4 linked regions of the Homo sapiens genome follow. The protein of the gene in region 3 interacts with the protein of the main gene of each other region in a pairwise test. Each region holds a gene or a part of one and is shown on either strand. Other genes may lie near its edges.

What was found.
Region 1: the proteins of COIL (region 3) and PDLIM5 interact in binary tests that used the Homo sapiens proteins (3 or more experiments, as listed by UniProt).
Region 2: the proteins of COIL (region 3) and DRG1 interact in binary tests that used the Homo sapiens proteins (3 or more experiments, as listed by UniProt).
Region 4: the proteins of COIL (region 3) and CCDC57 interact in binary tests that used the Homo sapiens proteins (3 or more experiments, as listed by UniProt).

Annotation. Positions count from the first base shown.
Region 1 is NC_000004.12:94,447,132-94,455,540, reverse strand, and holds the start of PDLIM5 (PDZ and LIM domain protein 5), read right to left. Parts: upstream 3,600-8,409; 5' UTR 3,546-3,599; intron 295-3,545; 5' UTR 253-294; coding exon 157-252; intron 1-156. UniProt on the Homo sapiens protein: May play an important role in the heart development by scaffolding PKC to the Z-disk region. May play a role in the regulation of cardiomyocyte expansion. Isoforms lacking the LIM domains may negatively modulate the scaffolding activity of isoform 1.
Region 2 is NC_000022.11:31,422,674-31,431,251, forward strand, and holds part of DRG1 (developmentally-regulated GTP-binding protein 1), read left to right. Parts: intron 1-606; coding exon 607-737; intron 738-3,941; coding exon 3,942-4,109; intron 4,110-4,386; coding exon 4,387-4,509; intron 4,510-8,578. UniProt on the Homo sapiens protein: Catalyzes the conversion of GTP to GDP through hydrolysis of the gamma-phosphate bond in GTP. Appears to have an intrinsic GTPase activity that is stimulated by ZC3H15/DFRP1 binding likely by increasing the affinity for the potassium ions.
Region 3 is NC_000017.11:56,937,699-56,944,409, forward strand, and holds the end of COIL (coilin), read right to left. Parts: intron 4,426-6,711; coding exon 4,337-4,425; intron 1,457-4,336; coding exon 1,373-1,456; 3' UTR 501-1,372; downstream 1-500. UniProt on the Homo sapiens protein: Component of nuclear coiled bodies, also known as Cajal bodies or CBs, which are involved in the modification and assembly of nucleoplasmic snRNPs.
Region 4 is NC_000017.11:82,166,987-82,175,564, reverse strand, and holds part of CCDC57 (coiled-coil domain-containing protein 57), read left to right. Parts: intron 1-2,704; coding exon 2,705-2,927; intron 2,928-3,711; coding exon 3,712-3,864; intron 3,865-8,578. UniProt on the Homo sapiens protein: Pleiotropic regulator of centriole duplication, mitosis, and ciliogenesis. Critical interface between centrosome and microtubule-mediated cellular processes. Centriole duplication protein required for recruitment of CEP63, CEP152, and PLK4 to the centrosome.

The sequences.
Region 1 (8,409 bases), on a different chromosome or scaffold from region 3:
CCCTCATCCTTTATTATAGATAATCAAATTTGCCAAGATCAAATCCCAGGAGCAATGATAATAAGTAGAGTACAGGTCAACAGAGAATTAAACAACTCAGCCCGAGGACTAAGCACTGAATGAACATCTATAATAAAATTTGTAAAGTTTACTTACACTAGAGATTGTCAGAGGCATGTTGAAATCCTTACCGCCCTGCAGCCGGAAACCCCAAGGAGCTGGGCCAACCAGTGACACACTGTAGTTGCTCATGGTTCTAATGGCTCAAAGTCCAATGACAGAAAATGAAATATGCTGTGAAAGAAAATCAGATGATTAGCAAAAATGTTTACTTGAAACCCTAGAACATAAATTATGTTTAGTATTTTGTTTGAGGGGGGTGAGAGGATATAGAAGATAAGTCTTAATTAAGTTCTTCATTAATTTCAGTTTAAGAAAAGCAATCTGTGAGCTAATATAAATTTTCTACACTCATGGCAATTTCCATGGTCTAAAAATTCCATATCAGAATACATTTCTAGACACTTAGTATGTTTCACAACTTGCTTCAATCCAATTTTGTGGCTTCTTGCATGCAAAGTTTAACTCAAAGTACTTTACAATACTTCACTAATGTAGCAAGATTTTATTTCAGGTTGAATTCAGAATAATTTTCTCCTTCCCTCCACTTCATGTATTCTTTTGTCTGCAATTGACAAGAGTCTTTCAACTGCACTTACTTAAATTCTAAGTTACTCTAACATGTGAAAGAGACTGCAAATCAGTAGGCTCCCATTCATGCTTTCCAAATACTAAATTCTTTACAATGAGAAGCTGTTTTTCAATGCACAAAACTATTCTCTCCAATCATGAACTACAACTTGTATTTCCTCCTATGGGGACATGGTATTTTCCACACTTAAAGTGATATCTACTTTTCCTTCAGATAGTCAACGATAGGCAATACTCTAGTACAGTGATGTTAGTCACAACCTGCTTTTTGTTTTATACACACACCTCACCAGGCAGAGAGTAAGCATTTGCCACTCAGTGAATAAGATTATGACTAAATACAGCAAAAGTGCTGGGTTAATGCATTCAAATGGAATTGGCAGTTTAGAAAAGAACCAGTGCTTCGGTGCTTTCTTTTGTCTGTTCTGCTGTTAAGTGTGCGTGTGATGACTCTCCTAGTAGTACTTTCATATAATTTTTAAAAAGCAAAAAAAAAAAAAAAAACTTCGAGTTTCCTATTGGTTGTTATAACGGCAGGAGACAGAGGAATGAAGTTTTCTTTTGTTTTAATGGAATACTAAGAAACAATAATTCTCTCTCTTTAAAAAATATTAAAAACATAACAGATATGTAATTTTATATTAAAAACATACTTCCTTGGAAAATGTAAGCTATTCAACCAAATCACCACCTAATATTACCTGTCTTAAAATATGTTTTAACCCATTCAAAATTTCTAGCCCATCACCCCAAATTCATAGTTGCAGATATAGATATTTGAGCCATAGGTATATTTAAAGCAAACATTCCTTCTTCTCATAAAGGGAAAATGGGGCAAAACATTCAAATAAGCCTGGTTTTTAAAGAAAAATTATATCAGGGAAAATAAAAATTACAGAAAATTGTATCAGAAACCGAAACAGCTTTTCTACTGGCGTGGTAGTATACTGAACTACAAGGCAATAACACATTACTTCAGTAATGAAGTAATAGGCACAGAGCACTAAAAAAGATCCAAAGGCCAAGCCGGAAGTCAAACTGTATATATAGGTGAAAAACTACTAGTGGGAAGCTAATAACGAGCCACACATAATTCAATTGCTTTCCCGCTATAAAAGGAGGAGATTTTCAGAAAACTAATAGAAGGACTGTCCTGATATTGACACGATACAAATCAGAATCGTGTAAAGCCAACTGATATTTCACAGGCAGCCTGCCCTCCTTTATTAATCTTTAACTTGTGTCTGGGGAATAATATGAAAGTTGGGCTCAACTTCCTCTGGCCCCATTCTTCCCTACAAGAAAATGTATTTCATTTAGATTATCAACCCATGTACTTGCAACTTCCCTTTACTTGGGGATTCCCTTCCTAACTTCTCTCATTTGTTATTAAAATTCCTAGCACTGGCAAGGTCACAGCCACACTACAAAACCAGTGTCATTTCATTTCTAGTCACTGTCCGTTCATTTCTAGATGCTTCTTCTGCTAGCTTCATTTGGAATTCATCTGCCTTAAAACAGTCTCTGCCCCAAGCAATGGCAATATTTTTATTGGCCTTTCCAAGACTCCTCCATCTGGTTATTAGTGCCCAAGCCCTTCCTCAAATACCAAGCAGGCAGGAAATAGCAGCATACTCTTTCAAACACGTCGAAAAGGTTGGAATTTCTGTAGAGTTATGGATTTTCTTTTAGGGAAAGTCTAAACAATGTCTTTGCTCTAGTACTAGGGAAGGAAGCTTGGTATTTCCCACACTTGTATCTCAGCTTCATTAGTGGGTGAGAGGGGAGAAAGGAGAACTCAAGATGAACTACACAGAGTGACAAAAAAAAAGGCCTGAAATTAAAGAGAAATATCTTGAGATTCTCTTTCCCCGCAATGGAGAGAGAATGTAGGTAGAGCTGAAGAACTAAAGCCACAGGCACAGGATGAAAGCAGCCGACAGGACAGTTTTCCAGGAGGGATTCGCGCCTAGCCTTGTTGGCCAAATAAGGCTACCGAACGGGCCGTTTCCGTGGCAGGCGGGTTCAGACGTCCTCCCCGTCAGGAAGGCGGACTTGGGATAGGATCTGGCGATCACACCCTAAATCTGCCCTGCCCAGCGCCGCCACGAATTTTCCTTCCAAGCTCTGCCCTGTCCACACGCCCTTCCTTTTTCCACTTATTGTAAAACGCACCGAAGGCACAGTCTTACAAAAGCCCCAACAAGTACTCAAGTGTTAACAAATCTCGTGTTCATGACAAATGTGTTTCTTAAACGAGCTTTATTTCTGGACGCGCAGAAGTTTTCCCCAAACAGGTTACACAAAACTGTAAATATCTGGGGGAGAAATAAATGCTTCTCAGTAGCCTGGGAGCAAAGAAAAACTAACGCGCCTTTTCCTTTGAGTCCCGCTTCCTACCCTCCAAGAGACTGGCGCAGGACTGGGCACTCAGACACCACACCACGGTGGTGCCGGGCGACGCCGGCAGCCGGGTGGGTGGGAGCGGCAGTGCCCGTCCCTGCCGGCCCTCGCCACCTCCGGGCGCCCTCCCGCGTCCCCGTCTCCGCTACGCTGGTCCCGGTCGGCCCGGGCTGCGGGGACCCCAGGGCTCGCCCTCTGGCCTCATGCGGACTCCAGCGCTGCCCTTTTCCGGGCGCTCCTTTTCCCAAGCTGCTCTCCCACCTCCGCCGCTCCGCGCCCAGAAAGCACCTGAGGAGCCATCCCTGCCCGAGGAGCGCCCCCTCCTCGTCCCCAACCGGGCTTCCCTTCTCGCGTTCGGCGCACAGCGGCCGGTTCTTTCCCTTCTCCCACCGGAGATCCGAGAGGCGCATCGCCGGCCGGCCGCCACTCACCTCGGGTCCGGCGCGGCGCGGGGCTGCCTCCGCCTCAGACAAGGGCTGACAAGTGACTCGCGGTGAGGGCGCCGTCCCCACCGCCCGCGGGAACTTCCGCCTCCTGGCTCTCCCTCGCCCCACCCCCGACCCAGGACACGCCCCTCCGCTCCCGGCCACGCCTCTGGGCCAGTCCCAGCCGCGCCGCGCAGGGGCGGGGAAGGTGGCGGCGGCGCCGGGCGCTCGGGCTTGCTGGGGCTGGCTGAAGCAGCTGCGGAAAGACAACTGCGCTACCGAGTTTCGGTGGGAGTAGTCTTAGCGGATTTTGAGCGCTACCTGGCAAAGGTCTAACCCTCCGCTCGTCCGTTTTGTAGTGGGTGCATTTTTCTCTCCAGAAATTTAAATTGGCAAGCAGTTGCTCTGCCTAAAAATAGAAGGGTACTTTGGATAAATCTCTATCTATGCAAGTTCAGCGGTTACTGCCTGCGTTTTTTTTTTTGAAAGAGCTTTACATGCTCTGAAAAGTGCAGACCCAGAAGTTTACCTGTCAGGAAGGTGAAAACCAGTAACCCTAACAGAAGTTAACCCTGTCCATCACACCAGAAGACAGTGATACATAAAAGCGGCCAAAAGTGATTCAACCACTGTATCTTCAGTTTATTTTTCTAAATCCAAATCAATAGTCCACTTTCCAGCCTTCTATAGGGTTGCTTGATACGCCCGAGGAATTTATTCATAAGAAAACGTGAATAATGTTCACTGAACATACGGAAAGTAACTAGACTGTTACACTGTGAATTGGCTTATAAAACGTGAAAAGGACAATTCTTAACCAAGGAGCATATAAAGCAAGGATGAACTTCATGAGGTCCGTGAGCTCCCCGGCCCCCAGAAGTGCAAGCAAAATTCCAAAGGCGAAGATCCAAAGCTGCTCTTTCCCTAACGGTAGCCACTGGCCACATGTGGCTATCGAACAGTTGAAATGTGGCTACTGTAACTGAGACCATGAATTTTTTGTTTTACGTAATTTTAAATAATTTAACATTTAAAACTGAAGCAGGATAACATTTCTTTACTTTTTTTTTCTTTGAGACGGATTCTTGCTCTGTCTCCCAGGCTGGGATCAGTGGTGCAATCTCGGCTCACTGCAACCTCCACCTCCCGGGTTCAAGCGATTCCCCTGCCTCAGCCTCCTGAGTAGCTGGGATTACAGGCGTGCGCCACCACGCCCGGCTAATTTTTTGTATTTTTAGTAGAGATGGGGTTTCACCATGTTGGCCAGCCTGATCTCGAACTCCTGACCTCAGGTGACCAACCCGCCTCGGCCCCGCAAAGTGCTGGGATTACGGGCATGAGCCACCGCGCCAGGTCGTTAACATTTCTTTTAAGCACTACATTTAAGGACTAAAGTTGAAAATATAATGCCCAAATTGAAATGCGTTGGAAGTGTAAAATGCACACTGGATTTCGACGACTTGGTATGAAAAAATAATGTAAAATGCCTCAATAATTTTTATATTGATTATATGCTGAAATCATCATATTTTATGTTTTGTTAAATGATACATGATTATGGCCGGGCGCGACGGCTCACGCCTATAATCCCAGCACTTTGGGAGGCTGAAGCGGGTGGGTCACCTGAGGTCAGTAGTTCAAGATCAGCCTGGCCAACATGGCGAAACCCCGTCTCTACTAAAAATACAAAAATTAGCCGGGTGTGGTGGCGCATGCCTGTTATCCCAGCTACTTGGGAGGCTGAGGCAGGAGAATCACTTGAACCCGGGAGGTAGAGGTTGCAGTGAGCCGAGACCATGCCACTGCCCTCCAGCCTGGGCGACAGAGCAAGACTCCGCACCAAAAAAAAAAGAGTAATAATAATAATATTTGATTAAAATTAATTTCACTTTTTAAAAAAAATGTGGCCACTAGATAATTTAAAATTACTTACGTGAGCAGGGTGCAGTGGCTGACACCTATAATCCTAGCACTTGGGAGGCTGAGGTGAGAAGATGGCTTGAGGGCAGGAGTTTGAGGTTAACCTAGGCAACATAGCAAGACCCATCTCTAAAAAAATCCAAAAAATTAGCTGGGCGTCGTGTAGTGTGCCTGTAGTCCCAGGTCCCAGCTATTTGTATTGCTGAGCCCAGAAGTTCGAGGCTGCAGTGAACTATGATCTTGTCTTTGCACTCCAGCCTGGGTGACAAAGGAAGACCCTGTTTCTAAAAAAATAAATAAATAAAATTACATATGTGCTTCACATTATATTTTCATTGGACAGCACCAGTCCATAGCTTTCACCACATTTTTCAAAAGATGGCTTTGGGGGAAAGTGTTTCCTAGTGTGAAAGCTGGTTTAGAGAGTCTAATATATGTTATCATGTTTGACATCTCACCCAAAAATAAAAAAAAAATAACAATAGCTACCATTAGCAAATACCTACCATGTGCTATGCAGTGTGGTAGTCCTTACAAGAACTTTATAAAATGAATGTCATCCTCATTTATAGATAATAGGTCGCAAGCAATTACAGCTTCTGCCAGTTCCACAGGGCCATGGCTCGAGTTAACCTCTAGGAGTCCCAACTCTGCCCCTTCTCATCTGTTTGCTGTTGATACAGTTAAATTGATCCTGGATCAACAAAGATTAATTTAAAGACATCAACTGCAGATAGCCTATGGAGTTATCACTAGAGGATAAGCTTCTTGAGGTGATGAGGAAGAGTTGAGAATGGGCAGACTGTTGCTTACTTATGCAAATTCCACTTTACCCCATAATTGCTAGCCTGTCTCTGAACCTCCTCCTACTACTGCAGTTTAAATCCTGGGCTACAGAGTAAATTAACCAAATTAAGTTGTCTTGCATAGACTGATATTTATCCAAGTGTCCTAAAAAGGACCGATTGCATCAAAATGACACGGATAGCTTGTTAAAATTGCATTTTCCTGGATCCCCTCTGGACTCAGAATCCTTGTAGGTGAGCCCTTGGAATCTTTTTAACAAACACTCCCTCCCCACCTCCAGGTAATTATTAAACTGCAGTGCTTAAAAACTACTTCCCTAGAGATAGTGCTATGTCTCCGGTTTAATGTGCACTGTGCTCAGTTAAGAACCATGCATTCCAGATGGTAGCAACTTATCTGTTTCCTCATCTTAAAGGAAATGATCATTGTAAATAACCTTGTGAGATTATCATGAGGAATAGAGATAATATATATAAAACATTACACAGCATGCTTCGCACCAAGTAAGGATTAAATAAATGGTAGCCATATGAAAACTTTCCTAACCAATTGATTAGATTTATTTGTGTATCATAAAAAACAAGTAGAGAACTTTGACTTTCATTATCCAAGTACTATGTTCTTGGTGCCCTATGTACATTATTCTACTTAATTCTTACAACCATATAAAGTAGACTTTTTTCAGAGGAAGAAATAGAAACTTGGAGATTAAGACATTTAACCTAGGGCACACGCCCACAGCTAATCAGTGATGGTAGTAGAGCAAAAGGTCTGATTCCAAAAACCATGTTACTTTCATCGCAACACACTGTCTCTTGGTAAATTCAGTAAGCCATCCAGACCAAAGACCTGAGGAAGATGGAATGCTTTCGAAACTAACACTGCTGAGGGCCATAGAGGTGTAAGCCATAGCAAATTATGGAAATAAAATAACTGCTGAGTAATTTGTATATGAGGGAAGATGAAACTCCTGAGCCACTTCAGGAGGACATATGCCTTAACTTGTTTTATAATGAATTGCCACGGGGCCATTCTGACTCCCCTTGTCTGTTTCCCTCATCACTAACATTTATGAAATGGTTGGCCATGGTCTGAAGGACAGCCTGTGACTACAGACGATCAGAAGTTACTGGTCCATTGGGAAATCAAACCAATGTCCTTGGCCTCATTAACTCTATAGGGCTAAGTAATGAGGCACTGACCACAAAGGAAAACATATTAAAAGCTTCATTTTATCATAATCAGGGAAAGAAAAGCTGGGTTGGGGGGTGGGGGAGAAAGAGATCAAAAGATTAACTTACTTAGCAGGAAGAGTTTTTAAGAATAGTCCCTCTAAACACAGTATTTACCTAAGCATATAAATGTTTTCTCTAACATTTTATTATCCAATCTATGACTCAGAACCTCTTGTAGCACTTCAAAAATAACAGAAACTTAATTACAACATGACATGGCTGTGACAAGTTTTTACAGTTGCACCCAATAAACTATGAAGTGCCAGTCTTTTAAAAGTTCCTATATTACTGAGTCAATTTATCTTTTAAGTCCTAATCCTGGAAGGTAAATAAACCACTCATGAGCATTTAAATTTTAAAATCTAGAATGGAAAAGAAGCATTAACTATTCTAATAACTAAAGAAACATTTGGTAATTTAGGGAGAAAAGATAGAAGGCACAGTGTCATTCTAAAGTTTACTAAAGAATCCTGGGAGAAGGGCAGAACTAAATCAGGCATGGAGAGAGTGGAAAGGAATAATGGAAAAGAAAGACTGTAAGAGCAGATCCGTGAAGCCTAGGGTAACTGAGAAAATGTGTAATTGAGGAAGAAGGCAAAGTTTAAACTAGCCTCAGGGATTCAAGTCTCAGTTTGGTGGGTGGTATTCATAACTGATATTGACTGAATGGAGAGGAGCAAGGAACTATGCATTTTACTGGCAGTTTCTAGTAAGGAAAAAAAAAGGCAATTGGTTGGTTAGTGAGGGGTAAAAATAAGAAGGATAGATAGGATGGACACTGAAAAAAGGTATCAGAGAGTCCCAAACTTGAGATTTCAGAAGTAGAGGAATATTCCTCATGATAAGATCAAGGTTCAGTCAGTCTGATGTTTTACTCAGATAAAGTCAGTTCACTGAGGAGTCCGGTG
Region 2 (8,578 bases), on a different chromosome or scaffold from region 3:
ATCTTTCCCATTATCCCGTCTTAATATTCAAATTTGAACATTTAAGATTATTTCTGTGTTAGTTTCAGTGCTGCCATAATACGGTACCACAGATGGGTGGCTTAAATAACAGAAATTTATTTTTCATAATTCTAGAGGCTAGAAGTCTGAGATGAAGTTGATGGCAGGGTTGATTTCTTCTGAGGCTTCTGTCCTTGGCTTACAGATGGGACTTCATATGGTGTTTGCTCTGTGTGTCTGTGTCCTAATCTCCTTTTCTTATTAGGACCACCAGTATTGGATTATGGCCCCACCCTAATGACCTTATTCTAATTTGATTACCGCTTTAAAGACCCTATCTCCAAATACATCACATTCTGAGATACTGAGGTTAAGACTTCATGTGAATTATTTGGTGGGGGAAGGAGGAACACAGTTCAGCGTGTAACACCTTCCTTGGAGTTTGGACATTTATTTCCTACTAAAAGTCAGTGACACTCATCCCGGATGTATTTAGTAATGAGTTTGCATCTTAGCTAGAATTTTCCAGGTACATGGATATTGGTACACTTGACAAGTATTTTTTTTAAATTTTGTGCTGACTAGTCATCTGCTATTCCCTTTCAGTGCCCCCAGAGTGAGCTGGATGCTGAAACTGTGAAGAGCATTCTGGCTGAATACAAGATTCATAATGCCGATGTGACTCTACGTAGTGATGCTACAGCTGATGACCTCATTGATGTGGTGGAAGGAAACAGGTACTGACTGAGTGTGCAGTCTGTGCCTGACTGAATTGGAAGCCTTGTGATGGAAACAGTATTGGATCTTGAATCTGGCAGAAGTTTATCTTAATTCCAGTTGTCCTACTGTCTTTTTTTTTTTTTTTTTTTTTGAGATGGAGTCTCACTCTGTTGCCCAGGCTAGAGTGCAGTGGCGTGATCTCAGCTCACTGCAAGCTCCACCTCCCAGGTTCAAGAGATTCTTCTGCCTCAGCCTCCCGAGTAGCTAGGATTACAGGTGCGCACCACCACGCCCAGCTAATTTTTGTATTTTTAGTAGAGATGGGGTTTCATCATGTTGGCCAGGCTGGTCTTGAACTCCTGACCTCAAGTGATCCGTCTGCCTCGGCCTCCCAAAATGTTGGGATTACAGGCATGAGCCACTGTGTCCAGCCTGTGCTACTATCTTAAATGATAGTGGGCTTTGGTTTCTTTTTTTTTTTTTTTTTTGAGATAGAGTTTCGCTCTTGTTAGCCAGGCTGGAGTGCAGTGGCGCAGTCTCGGCTCACTGCAACCTCCACTTCCAGGTTCAAGCGATTCTCCTCCCTCAGCCTTCCTGAGTAGCTGGGATTACAGGCCTGTGCCGCCACGCCTGGCTAATTTTGTATTTTTAATAGAGATGGGGTTTCTCCGTGTTGGTCAGGCTGGTTTCGAACTCCTGACCTCAGGTGATCCACCCCACCTCGGTCTCCCAAAGTGCTGGGTTTACAGGTGTGAGCCCGGCCTTTTTTTTTTGAGACAGAGTCTTACTCTGTCACCCAGGCTGGAGTGCAATGGTGTGATCTCAGCTCACTGTAACCTCCTCCGCCTCCCAGGTTCAAGCGATTCTGCTGCCTCAGCCTCCCAAGTAGCTGAGATTACAGGTGTGCACCACCATGCCCAGCTAATTTTGTATTTTTAGTAGAGACGGGGTTTCATCATGTTGGCCAGACTGGTCTCAAACTCCTGACCTCAAGTGATCCGCCTGCCTTGGCCTGCCAGAATGTTAGGATTACAGACATGAGCCACTGCGTCCAGCCTGTGTTACTATCTTAAATGATAGTGGGGCTTTGGTTTCTTTTTTTTTTTTTTTTTTTTTTTTTGTGAGACAAGAGTCTCACTCTGTCACCTGGGCTGGAGTACAGTGGCGCGATCTTGGCTCACTGCAACCTCCACCTCCTGGGTTCAAGTGATTCTTCGGCCTCAGCCCCCTGAGTAGCTGGGATTATAGGCGCCTGCCACTACATCTGGCTAATTTTTTGTATTTTTAGTAGAGATGGGGTTTCATGTTGGCCAGGCTGGTCTTGAACTCCTGACTTCAGGTGATCTACCCACCTCAGCCTCCCAAAGTGCTGGGATTACAGGTATGAGCTGCTGTGCCCGGCACCCGCCCCCCCCCCCTTTTTTTTTTTTTTGGAGTCTTGCTTTGTCCCCCAGGCTGGAGTGCAGTGGCACGATTTCAGCTCACTGCAACCTCTGCCTCCCGGGTTCAAGCAATTCCCCTGCCTCAGCCTCCCAAGTAGCTGGGACTACAGGTGTCCGCCACCATACCCAGCTAATTTTTGTATTTTTAGTAGAGACGGGGTTTCTCCATGTTAGCCAGGCTGGTCTCAAACCTCAGGCAGTCTGCCTGCCTCTGCCTCCCAAAGTGCTGGGATTACAGGCGTCAGTCACCCTGCCTGCTGGCTTTGGTTTCTTTAGGGGTAAACTGAGGGATTAGTTTTTATTTCTGACATCCTTCCTTGCTTTTAAATTTAATTATGATGGTCATATTCCCCATTTCAGTTTTTTTCTTTTACAGCCTCTTCCTATGAAATTCTCCGTTTCAGTTACTTGCTGTAAACTAAGCTGCCCCCTAAACTTTGTCATGTGATAGTTGAAGAAAGTAGTAGGTCAGTCTGCTCTTCCAGAATTAATCCACCTGAGAAGTTATATAGGCTGTGTCCTACAGAAGTCCGAGCAGGCCAGGCTGTGTCTGTTTTCTCCATCCTAAGAGTATGTAGCTGAATATCTGTTTCATGATACATTACTTTTTTTTTTTTTTTTTGAGACAGAGTCATGCTCTTGTCGCCCAGGCTGTAGTGCAGTGGTGTGATCACGGCTTACCGCAGCCTTGAACTCCCGGGCTCAATCCATCCTCCCACCTCAACCTCCTGAGTAGCTGGGACTATGGGCGTGTGCCACCAAGCCAGGCTAATTTTTGTATTTTTTGTAGAGATGTTGTTTCACCACGTTGCCGAGACTGGTCTTGAACTCCTGGGCTCAAGCAATCTGCCTGCCTTGGCCTCCCAACGTGTTGGGATTATAGGCATAAGCCACTATGCCCAGCCCATTAATATTACTGAGACTTTAATAAGTTAAGTCACTGTTAAAATTACTCATAGCATTTGCATGTAATATTTTTAGTTGCTCTCCTAGTCATTTGTTCCTGTATGTTGGATGAGTGTACTTACTCCTCATTTGAAAACAAACAGAAGCCAGTGTTTTCAGTTAGGCATTTTACAAGTGAGGCAGTTAAACCTGAGAAGTTGTGGCTTGCCTAATTAGTAGTAACCTTAGCTGTCATATTGATTGGACACTAGGAATATGACATTGGTAGATGCTATATCAGTTTTACCAATATTATTTATTGTACCAATAAATAAAACACTTATTTTTTAGTCTTTAAGTATAAATTATGTTTTAAAACAGCCTTGTAGGAAACTGACTCAGAGGTTAAGTGACTTTCCTAGGGACACATAACATCACCTCTTCATATCCACAGAGGATTGCTTCCAGGACCCCTTGCAGATAATGAAACCTGCAGATGCTCAAGGCCCTTATATAAAATGGTATAGTACAGCTGACCCTCCGTGTCTGTGGGTTTTTGATCTGCAGTTGGTTGAATTCAGGGATGCAAAACCTGCATATTTGGAGGGCCAGCTGGGATTAGAATCAGTCTGAGCACTTCAAAGCTTGTGTTCTTTCCACTGCAGTATGCTTTCCTAGCAGTTAGCTTTGTGGCTGGTACTAGGGCCTGACTTCTGTTACTTTTCAACCCATAGTTCACTTTTTCTTTTTCTTTTTTCTTTTTCTGGCTGATCTGCTACTTACAGTCCCTCTTGGGAGCGCCAGTTGGGTCTGGGTGAGGGTGTGCTGTTCAACAGTCTGACAGTTCTGTCAACAACTCCAGACTAATACCCTGTTTTTCTTCACTTTCTGTAGAGTTTATATCCCCTGTATCTATGTGTTAAATAAGATTGACCAAATCTCCATTGAGGAATTGGATATCATCTATAAGGTGCCTCACTGTGTACCCATCTCTGCCCATCACCGCTGGAATTTTGATGACCTATTGGAAAAGATCTGGGACTATCTGAAACTAGTGAGAATGTAAGTCTTTGTGGATAGGGTAATGTTGCTATAGGAATTAACCAGACTGTCCTAAAATGATACTTTCTGGAGCTCATTAACAAAATCTGGCTCTTTTTGAAAATATAAGTAAATTGGTTCCTATTATCTACTAGGTCATTAGGTCATATTGAGGACACTTTTTCCCTTAAGTTGGAGGTTGTCCTGGTCTGATGTCAGGGGTGATGGAGGGTTGCTATACATTCAACACATGAGATAGTCTAAGAAGGCAGTAATCTTTATGCCCTCTCTATTCTAGTTACACCAAACCCAAAGGCCAGTTACCAGATTACACATCCCCAGTGGTGCTTCCTTACTCCAGGACCACAGTGGAGGATTTCTGCATGAAGATTCACAAAAATCTTATCAAAGAATTTAAATAGTAAGTATCATGGGCCTGTGGTCCCTCCTTTTTCCTATGAGTTACCAATTTTACTAACTAGTAATTCTTAGGATAGCATTTTAAAAAAGAAGGCAGGAAGGAGGCTACTGAAATGTTTGCTTGGCTAGAACTCTGCAGTGTCTTCTTAAAACCGTGCCTAATTAGAATAGGAAGAGCTCTAGAAACCTCTTTAGGTCAGGAAGCCTGATGACACAAACAACCCTGACCTTCCCTCATTATTTCATCTTCCTCTTGGCAAACACAAATATTAATAATTCCTGCCAATGTCACACTGGCCTCTACTGGGTACTGAGCCCCCTTCTAAACCTTAAACATGGGCAAAACCTCCCTAATCTCTTACATTTTTCACTGCTGACACAGGCTGAAAAAAAATTATTTTATTTTTGCGACGGTCTTGCTGTTGCCTTGGCTGGAGGGAGTGGTGAGATCATAGCTCACTGGAGCCTCAATCTTCTGGGCTCAAGCAGTCCTCATGCCTCAGCCTCCTGAGTAGCTGGGACTACAGGTGCACACCATTATACCCGGCTAATTTTTAATTTTTCATTTTTTGAGACAGTCTCGCTTTTGTTGCCCAGGCTGGAGTGCAATGGCGTGATCTTGGCTCACTGCAACTTATGCTTCCCGGGTTCAAGTGATTCTCCTGCCTCAACCTCCTGAGTAGCTGGGATTACAGGCATGTGCCACCCACCATGCCCAGCTAATTTTGTATTTTTAGTAGAAACGGGGTTCCTCCATGTTGGTTAGGCTGGTCTTGAACTCTTGACCTCAGCCCCCCAAAGTGCTGGGATTACAGGCATGAGCCACCGTGCCTGGCCTTAAAAAATGTTTATTAGAGACGAGGTCTTGCTTTGTTTCCCAGGCTGGTCTTGAATTCCTGAGCTCGAGCAATTCACCTGCTTCAGCCTCCCAAAGTGTTAGGATTATAGGTGTGAGCCACTATGCCCAGCATATTAATTTTTTATTTTGAACTTATTTTAGACCAATAGCAAAGTTGCAAATACAGCACAAAGTTTCTTTTTTTTTTTTGAGACGGAGTCTCGCTGTGTCGCCCAGGCTGGAGTGCAGTGGCGCAATCTTGGCTCACTGCAAGCTCTGCCTCCAGGGTTCATGCCATTCTCCTGCCTCAGCCTCCCGAGTAGCTGGGACTACAGGTGCCCGCCACCACGCCCGGCTAATTTTTTTGTATTTTTCAGTAGAGATGGGGTTTCACCGTGTTAGCCAGGATGGTCTTGATCTCCTGACCTTGTGATCTGCCCGCCTCGGCCTCCCAAAGTGCCGGGATTACAGGCGTGAGCCACTGCGCCCAGCCCAAAGTTTCCTTTTATCTCTCACCCCACTTCTAATGTTAACAGCTCACATTACTATAAAATTATCAAAAACAGGAAATAAGCATTGGTATGATGTTGTTAACTATAGATCTTATTTGAAATTTATTACTTTTTCTTTTACTAGTGTCTGTTTTGTGTTCCAGGAACCTGTGTGGCATTTAGTTGTTGCTTGTTTGTAGTCTTGTGTTCTAGTCTACCAGTAATATTTCCTTAGACTTTCACTGTCATTGATGATCTTGACACTTTTGAAGAGTGTTCACTAGTTATTTGATTGAATATTCCTTAGTTTGAGTTTGTCCAGTGTTCTCTCATGATTGAAATGAGATTATGCATTTTTGGTAAGAATACCACAAAAATAATGATATGTTCTTCTCAATGTATCATTACATGAGATTCATGATGTTGATATACCTCACCGATGATAATATTCACATTGATTACTTGGTTAAGTTGGTGTAGGGTGGGTTTCTCTGCCGTGAAGGTAGTATTTTTCTCTCCGTATTTTATAAGTATCTCGGGGTACTTTTGAGACTGTGAAAGTCCTTTTTCTCTTCAAATTTTTGCCTGCTATTAGCATCTACTGGTGAGGCTTGTTTGTGACATTTATGGCTATGGTGTTTACCTAGCCATAGGCTGGAGTGTAGTGGCACGATATCAGCTCACTGCAACCTCTGGCTCCTGGGTTCAAGCAATTCTTCTGCCTCAGCCTCCTGAGTAGCTGGTACTACAGGCGTGTGCCACCGTGCCCGGCTAATTTTTGTATTTTTAGTAGAAATTTTTGTATTTTTAGTAGTCAGGCTGGTCTCAAACTCCTGACCTCAGGTGATCTGCCTGCCTCGGCCTCCCAAAGTGCTGGGATTACACACAGGCATGAGCTACCACGCCTGGCCTAATGGTGATTCTTTATTTTCCTTTTTTATTTTACATTTATTTATTGGACTTCTGTGTGTTAGAGCTACCACTTCTTTATTTAACTCATAATTCCTATCAGTATGAGCTCTTGGTTATTTTATTCTATAGGATGTAATCTAATACTATTATTATTTTGTTGCTCAAATTACTACAAAGCTTTGGCCATTAGGAACTCTTTCATGTTGGCCCCTGTGTTCTTTTGATAAGCTCCTTTTTTTTTTTTGAGACACGGTCTCACTGTTGTCCAAGCCGGAGTGCAGTGGCACGATCACAGCTCACTGTAGCCTTGATCTCATGGGCTCAAGCCTCAGCCTGCCTCAGCCTCCTGAGTAGTTGGAACTCCAAGTGTGCGCCACCATGCCCAGCTAGTTTTTTCTATTTTTTTTGTAGAGACAAGGTCCGACTTGTGTTGCCCAGACTGGTCTCCAATGCCTGGGCTCTAGTGATCCGCCTACCTTCACCTCCCAAAGTGCTGGGATTACAGGCATGAGCCATTTATTTATTGTAGAGATGGGGTCTTGCAATGTTGCCCAGGCTTCTCAAACTCCTGGGTTCAAGTGATCCTTCCATCTCTGCCTCCCAAAGTGCAGGATTACAGGCATCAGCCACCCTTTCCTTACTTTTTGATAGTGTTAATACTTAGATGTTCCCAAATGACATTGATTTTGCCTGCACTAGCCCTGAAAATTAGTCACTTCTCCAAGGAGCCCCAGTTTTCAAGATGTGGGTGCTAAGCATGCTCATTGTTAGCAAGTAGGTTATCATTGCCTGTAGGCCCTCTCAGCAAATAAAGTTAGGAAATACATGTATGGATACTAATGATGCTTATATACACAACTGTATTTCTGTATCTGTCTTATCCTTCCTCACTATCCATCATTTATCCATCTTTCCTAAAAACCATGAGTTTATACTGTTATCTCTGATTCTAGTTCAATACTACAGGGTTAATTTTTTTTTTTTTTTCTTTTTTTGAGATGGAGTCTCGCTCTGTCGCCCAGGCTAGAGTGCAGTGGCGCCATCTCCGCTCACTGCAAGCTCTGCTTCCCGGGTTCACGCCATTCTCCTGCCTCAGCCTCCTGAGTAGCTGGGACTACAGGCACCCGCCACCACACTCGTCTAATTTTTTATATTTTTAGTAGAGATGGGGTCTCACCGTGTTAGCCAGGATGGTCTTGATCTCCTGACCTCGTGATCCGCCCGCCTCGGCCTCTCAAAGTGCTGGGATTACAGGCGTGAGCCATCATGCCCGGCCACTACAGGGTTCATTTTAGCCTTCCCACTTAGTATTATTTTTGAGACAGGTTCTCTGTCTCCCAGGCTGGAGTGCGGTGGCTCTGTCACAGCTCACTGCAGTCTCGACTTCCCAGGCTCAAGCGATCCTCCTACCTCAGTTTCTGAATAGCTGAGACCATAAGTGTATGCCACCATGCCCAGCAAATTTTTTTTTTATTTGTAGAGACAGGGTCTCCCTATGTTGCCCTGGCTGGTCTCGAACTCCTGGGTTCAAGCGATTCTCCTGCTTTGGCTTCCCAAAGTGCTGGGATTACAGACACTAGCCACTGCACCCGGCCTTCCCCCCCCCCCCCCGCTTTTTTTTTTTTTTTTTTGAGACGGAGTCTTGCTCTGTTGCCCAGGCTGAGTGCAGTGGTGCGATCTCGGCTCACTGCAAGCTCCGCCTCCCGGGTTCATGCCATTCTCCTGCCTCAGCCTCCCGAGTAGCTGGAACTACAGGTGCCTGCCACCATGCCTGGCTAATTTTTTGTATTTTTAGTAGAGACGGGGTTTCACCATGTTAGCCAGGATGG
Region 3 (6,711 bases):
TGGTCCCCCTAAATTGACTTCATAATCCTTCTTGGGGACTCTATTCATAGTCTGACAAACACAACAGAGGAAAGGAGTGACTCATAAACTGATAATAATCTGAGAAAAACACACCCTGAGGTCAAAATTTTCCTTTGGTCAATGTTCACTAGTTATCTTAATTTGTTTTCCAAACCCTGGAAGGCAACTGTGCTACACAGAACCCCAGTGCCAAGATCCCACCGTTCACATTACTCTCATCCTTTCGGGAGTAATACTTCTCATTACAAATCAATAAATGCACATTTTGAAACACATTCATGTCATGCAAAGTAAAACTGGCCAGCATCTCCACTGGCACAGTGGCTCCCAGATCAGATGAACTCCACTGAACCAAACTTTGCAACATCAGACTCATCAGTCAAAGCAAACCTTCTTATTACAGAAAATTGTAATCTCTCACGTTATTGTAAAATAAGACAATAATTTGCAATACTCAACATGATAACTCGGTAGAGATGTTTAGTTCAATATGATTTTATTTAAAAATGTGTACAGCTGAAGGAGGGATCTGATCTTTTGTTAAATGAAACCAATTTTCACGGTATATATTTGGCCATTTTAGCTTCGTAGTGAATAATAACAGAAAAGGAAGTTTCTGTTCAAGATCCTCACTCCAGCACACTCAGCCAGGTGCCTGGCAAGATGACACATTTCCTGGTCTGAAGCTCACAGCCAATCCTCTCACTGAAGTGAAACACCAATTCTCCAGGCATACACACACATACGCACATCTTATTTTCACTGCTCTACACAGGGACCTGAGAATCCTTAATTTTAAAGTTGGGAAAAACGTGAAAGGATTCCTTAACTCATTGTCTGCGACAAATCCAACTACCTGTTAACTCTTAACAATTGCAAGTATAAAATACTTGAAATTTACAAGATGCTCCATTTAATGGAACAACTCAAATGCTAAAAAATTAGGTCAAATAACATGCTTTAATATTTTTAAATGTTACTTAAAACTTATTGAGACAAGATACGCAGCACATTCTTGGTATTATAAACTCCTACTGACGACTGCTACTTGATGGCCAAAAACATTTAAAGAAAGAGAAGAAACCATACTGGTATACAACAATATCTGCAGGGAATGTCATGTTTTACATTTTGTTAACTGAAATTAAACCTGACAAAAAAACCAAAGATCTACAAAACCGACACCCATGTCATTTTAAATGATGAGGTAGATTGTTTCCTATGCAGTAAAGTGAAGATAACAAAAAAATCCATACAACTTCCAAATCCTCTTTAAAAAAAAAAAAAAGTTTGGGTTATAGTCACTTTCACAAACAAGACATTCATAAACTATAAGGTGGAGAGGTCATACTCAGGCAGGTTCTGTACTTGATGTGTTACTTGGAGATTCAATAATCAGTCTTGGGTCAATCAACTCTTTCCAAAATACAGTGATCTGAGGAAAAAGACAAAATACCCAGTTTAGGCACTTCATTTTGAGGTCATACCGGTTAATTCAGCCACGTAAATTTTCCGTCTGTGTAGAATGATTGAAGAACGGGAATAATTTGGGTTCCAATAAACTGAGTTCAATTGCAGTATAGTAACTCTTTAGGCCAGGCGCTGTGGCTCACACCTGTAATCCCAGCAATTTGGAAGGCCGAGGGGGAGAAATGCTTGAGCCCAGGAGTTCAAGATCAGCCTGGGAAACCTAGTGAGACCCCATCTCTATTATTTTTTTTAATTAAAAAACAAAACAAAAAAAAAGAGGCCAGGCATGGTAGCTCACGCCTATAATCCTAGCACTCTGGGAGGCCAAGGCAGTCGGATCATCTAAAGTCAGGAGTTCAAGACCAGCCTGGCCAACCTGTGTCTCTGCAAAAATACAAAAATTAGCCGGGCATGGTGACGCATGCCTGTAGTCCCAGCTACTCGGAAGGCTGAGTCAGGAGAATCGCTTGAACCCAGTAGGTGGAGGTTGCAGTGAGCGGAGATCGCGCCACTGCACTCCAGCCTGGGTGACAGAGTGAAACTCTGTGCTGGGAAAATAAATAAATAAATAAATAAATAACTCATTTACTTAGAATGAAGCTAAATTTTACATTAAACATATTTCATCTTTCTTTGATTAAGAGCAGGAGATGCAGGGGTTGCGGGAGGGAGTAGCTCCCCCAACCCCTGCATTTGATTTGCCCTGTGGACAGGTGGCCTGGAGACCTTCTGGCAACTAGACATGGTCCAGATGGGTATCATTAGGCTGCTGATGCCCTTTTGCGCCGCTCTGTAGTTCTTATCCTACACTACCTAAAAACAGGAACTATTTCACAGCCCACCAAGAGAAAAACTCTAAGGCTTGGTCCTATGAATGAATAATGAGGGCCATCTAGTGTCAAAAAAGGTAATTACAGGCTTTTTGTTTTTGAGATAGGGTATCACGTCTATAGTCCAGGCTGGAATGCAGTGGCATTCAGGACTCACTGCACCTTCCACCTCCTGGGCTCAAGCGATCCTCCTGCCTCGCCCCCACCACCCCCAAAGGTGGCTGGGACTACAGGCATGTGTCACCACTCCCGGTTAATTTTTGTATTTTTTTGTAGAGACGGGGTCTCGCCATGTTGCCCAGGCTGGTCTTGAACTCCTGGACTCAAGGGATCGGCCCGCCTCAGCCTCCCAAAGTGCTGTGATTACAGGCATGAGCCACGGTGCCCAGCCTAATTACAGGCTTTCTATTCTACTTCAAGTCTCTGTTTAGGGCATAGAGAGAAAAGCCTCCAAGGTTTAATTTTCCAATGCGGTTTCCAATTTCAACCAAAAAAAACTATTGCAAATAAAGAAATACAGGAGACCAGGCCAAATCTGCTGATCCTACCACAAACACTAAAAATGTGTTTCTGGAATAAATCCCTAAAAGTGTCATCTACCTTAAAGACAAGGTAAAACACAGTCTGGCTAGGGTTTCTACAAGTTCACACTTCAGAAAAAATATGTTTGCAATATTGAAACTTACAGAATAATATCTATAACATTTCAAGTATAAACACCTTAAAAGAGAGCATTTTCTTAAATCTAACTTCCATTTAATGCCACCATAACCTAATGAGCTAGCCACTGCCAGCAACTCTGGTAGGTCTGGCTGCTTAAAAAGGTATAAATCGGCCGGGCGCGGTGGCTCACACGTGTAATCCTAGCACTTTGGGAGGCCGAGGCGTGCAGATCACGAGGTCAGGAGATTGAGACCATCGTGGCCAACGCGGGGAAACCCTGTCTCTAGTTAAAAAAATACAAAAAATTAGCCAGGCGTGGTGGCAGGCGCCTGTAATCCCAGCTACTCGGGAGGCTGAGGCAAGAGAATGGTGTGAACCCGGGAGGCGGAGCTTGCAGTGAGCGGAGATCACGCCACTGCACTCCAGCCTGGGTGACAGAGCTAGACTCTGTCTCAAAAAAAAAAAAAAAAAAAAAAGGTATAAACCATATACTTCCCAAAATGGCAATTTAAGGATTTAAAGAAAGTCAGAGGATGAGATCATCATTTTATGTCACTCTTCAAACTGTTGTGCTATTATAAGTTGGAACTCTCGGGCCAGGCATGGTGGCTCACCCAGGCACGGTGGCCTGTAATCCAACACTTTGGGAGGCCTAAGTGGGCAGATCACTTGAGGTCAGCAGTTCAAGACCAGCCTGGCCAACATGGTAAAACCCCGTCTCTACCAAAAATATAAAAATTAGCTGGGTGAGGTGGCAAGCGCCTGTAATTCTAGCTACTCCAGAGGCTGAGGCATGAGAATCGCTCGAACCTGAGAGGTGGAGGTTGCAGTGAGCCAAGATCATGCCACTGCATTTCAGCCTGGGCAACACAGTGAGACTCTCTCAAAAAAACAAAAGTTGGAACTGTGGTAACACTTGGGGGATAGTGGTGACAGCAAGGGGACATAATAGAGGCTTCTGGGAGTGGGTGTTATGTTCTATTTCCTGATCTGGGTCTGGTTACATGGGTATGTTCATGTGAAAGTTGTTCAAGCCATGTAGTTATATGCACTTCTCTGAACGTGTATGCCAATAAAGTTTCTAAATATGCTACCCTTTCCTACTGGAATCCTTATATAGCTATAATTTTAAACAACTGTACACTCTTAAAGAAAAGTTTGTTATTTGTGCATCTTGTCACATAGGCTCTATGAGGGCCAAGATGGCGCCCTGATTTGGCACTGGTATTGCCACACCATAAGAAGGTCAGATTCCCCCCAGGGCCTGTAGTGCAATGTCACCTTCCAAACCACAGGTAATTGGTCAAGAGAGAACGAATGGCCAAGCAACGCAAGAAGAGAAGCACACCTACCTTGCTCTCCTGTGTCACAGCGTACTCCACTACCTCGGCTCCATTTTCATTGTGATAAACTAAATCAAATTTCCCAGGTTCTCTCAAGGCTGAAACAAGAAGATAGGGAGGAAAGAGAGTAAGTCATTTTTCAATAGTTAAAAATGTTCCTCTATGGGGAATTTATATCATTAAGAAAACAACCACAAACAAACTGTCAATTAATGTGAAGGCTGGGTATGTACAGGAAAGCACAGGGTGCTCAATACTGGGGGATCCTGAGAAAAACTCTGGACCAGGGGGACTTCTCAGCCATTTATCAGAGAAAATCTTTCCTTCATAAGCTTGATGAACTGTCATTAGTACTACCAGAATTGAATATGGCACCACAAGATAATCCCCAAAATTAATTAATTTATGTGTTTCAACAAGGGAAGGTAATATGAAATGCTGCTCTGTCCTTAGAAATCACATATGCTTCCTACTACTTGGTAACACAGGCAGTCCCCCTTTTTTTTTTAAGACAGAGTCCTGCTTTATCGCCCAGGCTGTAGTGTAGTGGCGCAATCTCGACTCACTACAACCTCTACCTCCTGGGTTCAAGTGATTCTTGTGCCTCAGCCTCCTGAGTAGCTGGGATTACAGGCATGCACCACTATGCCCAGCTAATTTTTGTATTTTTAGTTGAGACAGGGTTTCACCATGTTGGCCAGGTTGGTCTCAAACTTCTGGCCTCAAGTGATCTGCCCGCCTCGGCCTCCCAAAGCGCTGGGATTACAGGCGTGAGCCACCACACCCGGCCTCAGTCCTTGCTTTCTATGGTAAAATGGGATTGGAAAAATGACTGTGCAAGCTGAAACCACGCAAAACAATCTTAATAATCAATAGGAAAAATTATTATCGTCTTACGAGTTTTAAAAAATTTTGCCAAAACATTAAAAACCTTTACTACATAGGGAAATTAAAAAATAGTAAAATAAATATATTGTACTTATGAGTACACTGTAATTACATTAGGAACACTAAGAACTAACTTTCTTTTTCTCTTTCCTTCTACACGTTTTATTTCTTTGTAAGAAACTTATCAGGGGGAGTTTGAACAGTGCTTGTGTTCTTGCCCTGTAACTTACAATACAGAGCAAGCATCTTCTCTATGCTTTGTGCAACTGTTATACTCTTTTCTAAGTTTGAAACTGCTTTCTACATTTTATCCTTTGAACTTCTAATGTCGTGAAATAGCTCAAAGAATTTGTTTTTTACTTTGTAAAATCTTTGTTTTTGCTGGTGTCACTTTGGGGACATTTTCATCCTTTTTGCCACAACCACTTTCCTCATTTATGTCAATAAGTTCACCTCACTGGCAGTGTCAACATTCCTACAGTGAGCTATTTCTTCTACAGACTCTCCTTAAACTCAGTTTGGATGGCACTTTCAGCATTACCACTTTTGTTTCTTTGCTGTGCCTTTATCTTTGTGGGCCAATTCCCTACTTCGATTATACGTGTTGTAAAATGTCATGCAGGTTTATAAGTGAGAGACAAGGAGGCACCACAACTGCATGCTCTGCTCTGTATGTGAACTGAATAACAGATGCACAGTGACCAGTCACTGACGGACTCTGAAAGTACTGACTTGACTGGTAATGGATCATGACGCGTATCTGTTATTTATGTTATATAGTGATATGTGGACTAAAGAGCTAGCAGTACTTCATGCACTTACAGTTAACATATGCAATGTTGCTGGGGGACTAGTATTACTTAACTAAACCAGGGTAACTGAAATATATGTATATCAGAACCACCACATCAAGGACAAGTGACATTGCTATTAGAGAACAGATAAATCCATTTCTTTCTTTCTTTTTTGCTTTTGAGACAGGGTCTTGCTCACTCAGCCTGGAGTGCAGTGACGCAATCATGACTCACTGCAGCCTCGACCTCCTGGGCTCAAGTGATCCTCCCACCTCAGCCTCTCAAGTAGCGAGGACTACAAGCATGTACCACCACACTCAGCTATGTTTTGTTTTTTTTTTTTACGACAGAGTCTCACTATGCTGCCCAGGCTGGTCTTGAACTCCTGGGCTCAAGTGATCCTCCCACCTTCGCCCCCGAAGCCATTTCTTGATGCCCTAAAGAAGAAAAGTTCTAAGTGGATGTCATCACTATTAATCACCTGACAAGCACTGATCAGGCTGTATGCACAGAATTTGACAGTGGACAAACTTTTCTGTCCACCGTTCCTAAGAAAGGGGATTTCTATAAATGAAATCTCATCAGAAGAAAGGTTGGAAACCTGGCCAGGCACGGTGGCTCATGCCTGTAATCCCAGCACTTTGGGAGGCTGAGGTGGGAGGATCACGAGGTCAGGAGATCGAGACCGTCCTGGCTAACACA
Region 4 (8,578 bases), about 25 Mb from region 3:
TAGGTAAGAGACAGATGGTTGCATTCTTTTGAATTTCTGATGAGCCTCTCCAAAGGAGGCAGTGAGATACGCATTCATCTCAGTGAGCAAAGGGTGACTTTGAATAGAATGGGAGGCAGGTTTGCCCTGAGCAGTTCCCAGCTTGACTTCTCCCTTTAGCTTAGTGATATTTTCCTTTCACACTGCCGAGCCCTCTGAGCCTTGCTTGCCGCTGTGGTGGGCCTGCTCAGCCAGTGAGGCCAGGCAGCCAGCACCCTCAGCGCGTCCTGGGACATAGCCTGGTAAGCCTCTGGGCACTCGGTATCCCGCTCTGTAACTGGCCAGGTGGAGCACGGCCTTCCAGGGTCTACCCCTCATGCGACTGTTTCTCCAGGAGAATTCTTTCTTCCTTTTGGTTCTACCATAAATATTTTCCCACGCCATTACAATTCTTCACGAACAGAATCTAAATGGCTGCATGTTTTATCAAGCGGCCACACCATAACGCACCTAGCGATTTTCTTACCAATGGTCCTTCATGTTGTTCGCCATTGTGATCACGGCACTGCGGTGGGCAGTTTCCTGTTGTTGTACCCAGGCGAGTTAGAGAAGACGCCACACTCTGAAACGAATTGAGTCCTTTATTTAAGCCGGCAGCCAAAGAGACGGCTAACGCTCAAAATTCTCTCGGCCCTGAGGAAGGGGCTTGATTAACTTGTATACCTTGGTTTAGGAAGGGGAGGGGAACTCAAAGGCAATAATTCTACAGAAGTAAAAACATGCAAGAATCAAAAGAAGCAAATGGTTACAGAGCGATAAACAATTTAAAAGACAAATGGTTACAAAAAGCAACGGTACCAGGTGCAGGGCTCTAAATCCTTCATTATAGTTAGACATAGATGCTATGCCGGACACGAACTCAAGGCTTTATGTTGTTATCTCTTTGAGAAGAATCCTGGGAACTTCAGACGTTGTTGGTGCCAGTACCTTATCAGTTAATTGGGCTCCTTTGAAATGCTGAGGATCTGCTTACACAGGTCAACTCCTTGCGGAAGGGGGTTGGGTAAGGAGCCCTTAGTGTCTTGTAAATTAAGGGGTCAGTTGGAGTTTGTCCGGCTTTCCCAGCTAGAGAGAGTCTTATTTACATGAGAAACAAGGCTAGGTGATTAAAGAGACAAACAGGGCAAAATTTAAAGTAGCGAGTTAGAGTAAAAACAGGGTTAGGCATCGCACTGTCTCCGTTTCTAAACTGCCAGTTGAGGTGCAGGTTCTGTTCGCATCCTCTCCACCCCTGAGCGCAGCGTGTGAAGCTCTCCTCCTGGGAGCCCAGGCCAGCTGGCCTTGCCAGGGAGCACGGAGGAGCCAGCGGGCAGTCAGAGCGTCCTGGGAAGGGCCCAGATCTTGCTTCAGGTTTGTGTTCATGGAGTGCAGAGTAGGGAGCAGGCTCTGCGTCCCTCAGGGTGGCTCCACAGGAGAGGAAGCTGTGCCTTTTGCACACATCTTGGCTGGACTCAAGGTTGAGTTGGGCCAGACCCTGGGACTTTGTTTCCCTCTCCCGTATCTGGGGTCTATGCTGGCGTCTGGAAGCAGGTGTTTCCTCTAATGTGTCTGGTGTTCTAGTTGTTCACAGCCGCAGGGAAAGACTCATGGCAGTGAGTCCCTCCTGGTCAGAGGCAGAAGCGCCCCTCACCTTTGGTTAGAGAAGGACACTCCCTCTCCCTAGGAACTGGGTGGGCGGGGCCTGTCTCTCCTCCTGCACCGGAGCCACCTCACCTCGTTGTCCTCCCGCCTTGGTGGCTCCTTGCGGGGTCTGTCATCCCTATGCCTGCCCTTTGACCCTAGGGTAACATGTCTCTTTTCTCGGGTTGCTTTTAGAGTTTCCATTTTGTTGCTGATTTTTCAGCAGCTTGATTATGTGCTGTTTGGTATGATTTTCTTTCTGTTTATCCTGCTTAGGGTTCACTGAGCTTCGTCATCTGTGATGTCGGCTTTCAGCTCATTTGCTTCGTCATCTGTGATGTGTGGCTTTCAGCACATTTGTAACATGTCTGGCCTTGTTGTAGACGCGTCTCCTGTCTTTGCGTTCATCTGGGCTCCTGGTTCCTTGTGCACCTTGTTCATGGTCTCCAGAGCTCTGCTCATTTTTTCTTCTTTGGCACCTTTCCTTCTGAGCTTCAGTTTGGGTATTTTCTGTTGCCAGGTGTTTATATTCACTGCCTTTTCTTCTGCGCGCTCTGAACCTGCTCTTCATCCTATTTAGTGGATGTTTGATTGTACTAAAGTATACATAACGCAAAACTGGCTGCTTTAACTATTTTTTGGTGCACACAGTTCAGCAGCATGAAGCGCATTCACACGGAGGTGCAGCCATCACACCACCCTCTCCAGAACATTCTCATCTTTCCATACTGAAGCTCTGTCCCCAAGAAACACTGGCTCCCCCTCCCCGCCCACAGCCCCAGCACCCCCATTCCACTTTCTGCCTCTGTGGATTGGACACTCTAGGGATCTCAAAAGTATGAAAGGCTCCAGGAATTTGAGTGTCATATTTGCACTTCTGTCAGAAAGGAGGGGCATCACAGCCTGGGGATGGGGAGGGACCACAGCCCAAGCTGAAGCGGGGGACCGGCCCGAGAGGGGCGCGGGGAGAGCGGAGGCACAGCCTGTCAGGACAAGCTGGGGAACCATTCATCTTTTTGTAGCCATTTTTCCTTGTATTTGACAGATGCTTCTCAGGCAGCATGAAGAAGAAATAAGTAAAGACTTTCCATCCAGTGAGATCCAGCGGCTCCGAGAGCAGAACACGAGCTTGCGAAACGCGATTGCCCAGATGAGGAAAGAAATGGAGGCTCTAAGCCATCAGATTCCTCCTCCCATCCAGACAGCGGCAGAGAGCACAGATGCAAACCAGCCTGACCCAGAGGCTGGGGGAGATGCCGCCACTCCTGGTGAGTAAGTGGGAGAAACGGACAGAGCGGGAGAGGAAGGGGGAGAGGGAGGGAGGAGGACAGACGGGAGCATGGGTCTTGACTGGCTTCAAGGAGGCTTCATTTCAGAGTCCTATAAGTTAACATCCCCTGTAATAAACTCAAAGTATGAAAACTGCTTTTTCTCCAAGAGAAGGGATCTTAAGTTTTATACCAAAAAGCTTTTATATTTGTAAAGTGGAAGGAAAAAATGAGGGTACCTGCTTGACACACTTAAAAACCTGTTTTAGACCTGGACCAGGGCTGGCTTGCTGTCGCGCTGTCCCAGAATGGGTTGGTAGCAGGGGCTGGTGGACCTCAGTCCTTTCCTCCAGAGGAGCGTCTGTGGCAGAGCTGATGAGGGCCTCCCGACCCCCAGGGACCCCATGAGTGGCTGTGGGTGGGCAGATGCCGGGATGGAGGCAGAGCTTCCGTTCTCGAGATGGGACTTGGCCCCTCTGCACAGAGGCACGTGGGCTGGCGGCAGGTGGAGCATTTGCTCCTGATCACTGAGCCCTTCCTGGAGAGCATGGAGACTGTGCTGGTCTCTGGCTGGCACACTCTGGCCAGTGAGGGGAGGGAAGGTCTTTCAGTCTGACACACACAGAGAGTGTGGAAACTACGGTGAAGCTGTAGTGTGAGGAGGACAGGGACAGTGAAGCTGGCGGGCATGAGCTGGCATCGGCTCCCTGAGCTGGTGCTCACAGGAGGGAGGTGCGAAAGGATGCTGTGTATGTGTTATATTCACTGGAGGTTTTTTTGGCAGATTATGTTCTGGCCCTTGAAGCAGAAATACGAACTCTAAAGCATAAGTTTAAAACTCTGGAAAAGCATCTAGAAGATGTGTTGGATCCTTTAAAGATGTCCTCACCTCATGCTGAGTCTCAGCCCAGCGTCCGCACCTCGACAGAGACGACTGGTAAGTCCGCGTCTCAGTGGGGTACTTGCTGTCCCCTTATAAACTGAAATCTGACCCCTGCAAAAGTCCGCTCATAGCAAATATACAGCTCAAGGCTACTGCAGACGTTGGGGCGGCGTCATCCAGCCCAGCAGCCCCTTGTGCTCCCTCCAGAGCCCACGTGCCCTGGCTCCTCACTGCAGTCAGCGTTCCCTGTTTTGGTGTGAATGGAATTCCTTGTGCTCCCTCCGGAGCCCACGTGCCCTGGCTCCTCACTGCAGTCAGCGTTCCCTGTTTTGGTGTGAATGGAATTCCTTGTGCTCCCTCCAGAGCCCACGTGCCCTGGCTCCTCACTGCAGTCAGCCCTCCCTGTTTTGGTGTGAATGGAATTCCTGGAGCTACCTCCAGAGCCCACGTGCCCTGGCTCCTCACTGCAGTCAGCGCTCCCTGTTTTGGTGTGAATGGAATTCCTCGCGCTCCCTCCGGAGCCCACGTGCCCTGGCTCCTCACTGCAGTCAGCGCTCCCTGTTTTGGTGTGAATGGAATTCCTTGTGCTCCCTCCGGAGCCCACGTGCCCTGGCTCCTCACTGCAGTCAGCGCTCCCTGTTTTGGTGTGAATGGAATTCCTTGTGCTCCCTCCGGAGCCCACGTGCCCTGGCTGCTCACTGCAGTCAGCGCTCCCTGTTTTGGTGTGAATGGAATTCTGTGGCACCTGTGCTTCTGTCTGGCGTCTTCAGACCTACACTGTGTTTCACTTGATAATGCCAGATTCTTCTCCAAAGCATCCATCCACATCGTGCGAGGTAGCCGTGGTGCTGCATGCGCGCCAACACTTACGTGGTCAGCGGCTCCTTCTGTTCCCTCTAGTGGACACGTAGCACATCCTATTTTGGTTTAATTTGCAAATTCATGAGATTCGTGGGATTGAACATCTCTTCCTGTGTGCATTGGCGTATGATTGGCTAGGGCTGCCGTAACTCAACACCACAGCCTGAGTGGCTTAAACAACGGTTTTATTTTCTCACTTCTGGAGTCTGGATGTCAGAGATCAGGTTGCCGGCAGGGTGGGTTCCTCCTGAGGCCTCTCTGTGGCTTGCAGACGGCACCCTCTCCCCTGCGTGCTCATGTGGACTCTCCCCCTGCGTGCTCACGTGACTCCTCCCCCGCTGCATGCTCACTCCTGGTGTCTCTTCCTCTTTTTTTTTTTTTTTTTTGGGACAGAGTCTTGCTCTGTTGCCCAGGGTGGAGTGCAGTGGCATGATTTTGGCTCATTGCAGCCTCTGCCTCCCAAGTTCAAGCGATTCTCCTGCCTCAGCCTCCTGAGTAGCTGGGATTACAGGTGCATGCCACCACGCCCGGCTAATTTTTGTATTTTTAGTAGAGATGAGGTTTCACCACGTTGGTCAGGCTGGTCCCGAACTCCTGACCTCGTGATCTGCCTACCTGAGCCTCCCAAAGTGCTGGGATGACAGGCGTGAGACACCGCGCCCGACTCTTCCTCTTCTTGTAAGGACAACAGTCCAGGGCCCCAGCCTTAGGACCTCATGTAACCTTAGCTGCCTCCTCAGAGGCGCTGTCTCCAAATACAGTCATGTTCGGGGTGAGAGCTTCAACCCGTAAATTTTGGGGGGCAGAGCTCAGTCCATAGAATTGGCCTTTCGACAGCCCCTCTTTTGGAGCTCCAGGCCATGTCTTTTGCCCATTGTTTATTGGATCATCTGCCCTTTGTCATAGATTTTTTTAGGGTATTTTATGCTGAATATGAGCCTAGCGTTGGTTATATGTGTTGCAAATATCTTCTCCCAGTCTATGGCTTGCCTTTTATTCCTTCACTGGTGTCTTTGGTGAATGGAAGGTCTTAATTTCAAGACAAACTCATAGGCTAATCTATTCCATTGTGGTTAGTCCAACATCAAAAGGTTCATTCTAGCATTCTAGCTTTCTTTTTCATTATTCTAACTTCCTTTCCCAATAATGAGAAACCTGGCTCGCCCATTATCACTAACACAGTTACTTTGATCGAGTCCTCTTGGTGTAACCAATCCCCCATTGCTGCTGTGGCCCCTTCCCCTATTTGCAGGCCCCTCTCCTGCCTGGATGCCTCCCCAGCATCACCGAGCTTGACAGCCCAGCCTGGCTGCCTTCCACACAGATGCCTTCACCCTGCTGGAGCCACAGCCCCCCTTAGTGTAGGGGAGGCAGGCCCCATCTGCAGGCCTAAGGCAGGAAAAGAAAGGGAGGGGCCAGACAGGACACTCCACTGGCACAGATTGTCTCAAATAGGGGAGGTTTTTGCCGGGCGCAGTGGCTCACGCCTGTAATCCCAGCACTTTGGGAGGCCGAGGTGGGTGGATCACCTGAGGTCGGGAGTTTGAGACCAGCCTGGCCAACATGGTGAAACCCCGTCTCTACTAAAAATACAAAAAAATTAGCTGGGCGTGGTGGCAGGCACCTGTAATCCCAGCCACTTGGGAGGCTGAGGCAGGAGAATCACTTGAACCCAGGAGGCGGAGGTTGCAGTGAGCCGAGATTGCACCACTACACTCCAGCCTAGGTAACAGAGCGAGACTCCATCTCAAAAAAAATAAAGTAAAATAAAATAAGGGAGGTTTTATTTTTCTTTTCCAATGCTGATATTGTTTACTTCTTCTTGCATTATCGCCCCTAGCTAAACTCTCCGGTATGATGTTGATAATAGCTGTCTTTCTCCCTAATCCCAGAGGAAGAACTTTCAGCATTTCACTTTTTTAGGTTGAGTTTTTGCTGAAGGTTTTTTGTGGTGGGGGTAGTGGAGGGAGGTTAAGGAAGTTTCTTTCTATTCCTGTTTTAATATAGATCTTTATTTTTTAAATCACGATTCTTTGTTTTTGTTTCATATATTTTGTATCTTTGTTGTTAGATGTGTATACATTTAGGGTTTTTTTTTTTTAGGATAATTGACCCTTATATTGTTACGTAATCTTCCTCTTTGTCTGGCAACATTCTTTGTTCTGAAGTCTACCTTGTCTGATATTAATTAATCCACTCGGGCTTTCTTTTGATTAGCATTCGCGTGGTATAACTTTTTCATCCCTTTTTCTTTTTACCTACCTCTCTCTTTTATATTTGAAATGAATTTCTTGTTTTTTGAGACGGAGTCTCTGTTGCCCAGGCTGGAGTGCAGTGGCACAATCTCGGCTCACTGCAACCTCTGCCTCCTGGGTTCGAGCGATTCTCATGCCTCAGCCTCCAAAGTAGCTAGGGTTACAGGCATGTGCCACCATGCCCAGCTGGTGGCGTTTGTATTGTTAGTAGAGACAGGGTTTCACCATGTTGGCCAGGCTGGTCTCGAACTTCTGGCCTCAGGTGATCCACTTGCGCTGGCCTCCCAAAGTGCTGGAATTACAGGCGTGAGCCACTGCGCCCGGCCTAAAGACAAAAACTGTTGAAAGCACACAGAGAGAGCGATGCACAGCCCACAGGGGACAGTGACTGGAGCGGTAGTGGGTTCTCAGCAGCAGCTGTCATCAGATTTCTCCTCAGAAGGAAGTGGCATAATATTTTTCAAGTACTGAAAGCAAAAAACTGTCAACCCATAATTATACATTCAGTAAAAATATTCTTCAGGAATGAGAGTGAATAAAGACATTCTCAGATGAAGGAAAAGTTTGTCACCAGCAGACTGGATCTAAAAGAACTGATAAAGGAGGTACTTTAGACACAACAGAAGGAAGGAAACTAGGAATGTCAGGAGTGAAGGAAAACTAATGGCAAGGATGAATATGATAGACATTCTTTCACACTTAACTCTTAAAATTACGTTGACAGGCCGGGCGCCGTGGCTCATGCCTGTCATCCCAGCACTTTGGGAGGCCAAGGCAGGTGGATCACCTGAGGTCAGTAGTTGAAGGCCAGCCTGGCCAACATGGCGAAACCCCGTATCTACTAAAAATACAAAAATTAGCTGGGCACGGTGGCGCACACCTGTAATCCCAGCACTTTGGGAGGCCGAGGTGGGTGGATCACTTGAGGTCAGGAGTTCAAGACTAGCCTGACCAACATGGTGAAACCCCTATTAAAAATGCAAAAATTGGCCGGGTGTGGTTGCGGGTGCCTGCAATCCCAGCACTTTGGGAAGCTGAGGCGGGTGGATCACTTGAGGCCAGGAGTTCAAGACCAGCCTGGCCAAAGTGGAGAAACCCCATTTCTACTAAAAATACAAAAATTAGCTGGGCATGGTGGTGGACACCTGTGATCCCAGCTATTTGGGAGGCTGAGGCAGGAGAATCGCTTGAACCCGGGAGGTGGAGGTTGCAGTGAGCCGACATCGCGCCACTGCACTCCAGCCTGGGCTACAAGAGCAAAAATCCATCTCAAAAAAAAAAAAAAGAATTTTTGTCTTTAGTTTTCAGAAATTTCATTATGTTGTATCTGGGCATAGATTTCTTTGGTTTATTCTTTTTGATATTGATCTGAAGGTTTATGTCTTTCACCAAATTTCAGAAGTTTTCATTCATTATTTTTCAAGTAATTTTTTCGGCTCCACACTCTTTCCTTCTGGGGCTCTGAGGACACAAACGTTTGGTCTTTTGTTATTGTCCTGCTGGTCCCTGAGGCTGTGTTTTGTTTCTTTTCAATTTGTTTTCTCTCTTGTTCAAATTGGACAGTTTCTTTTCCTCTGTTCTTCAGGTTTATCAGTGCTTGCTTTTGTCATTTCCATTTTGCTGTGGAGCCCATTCAGTGAGATTTTTGTTTC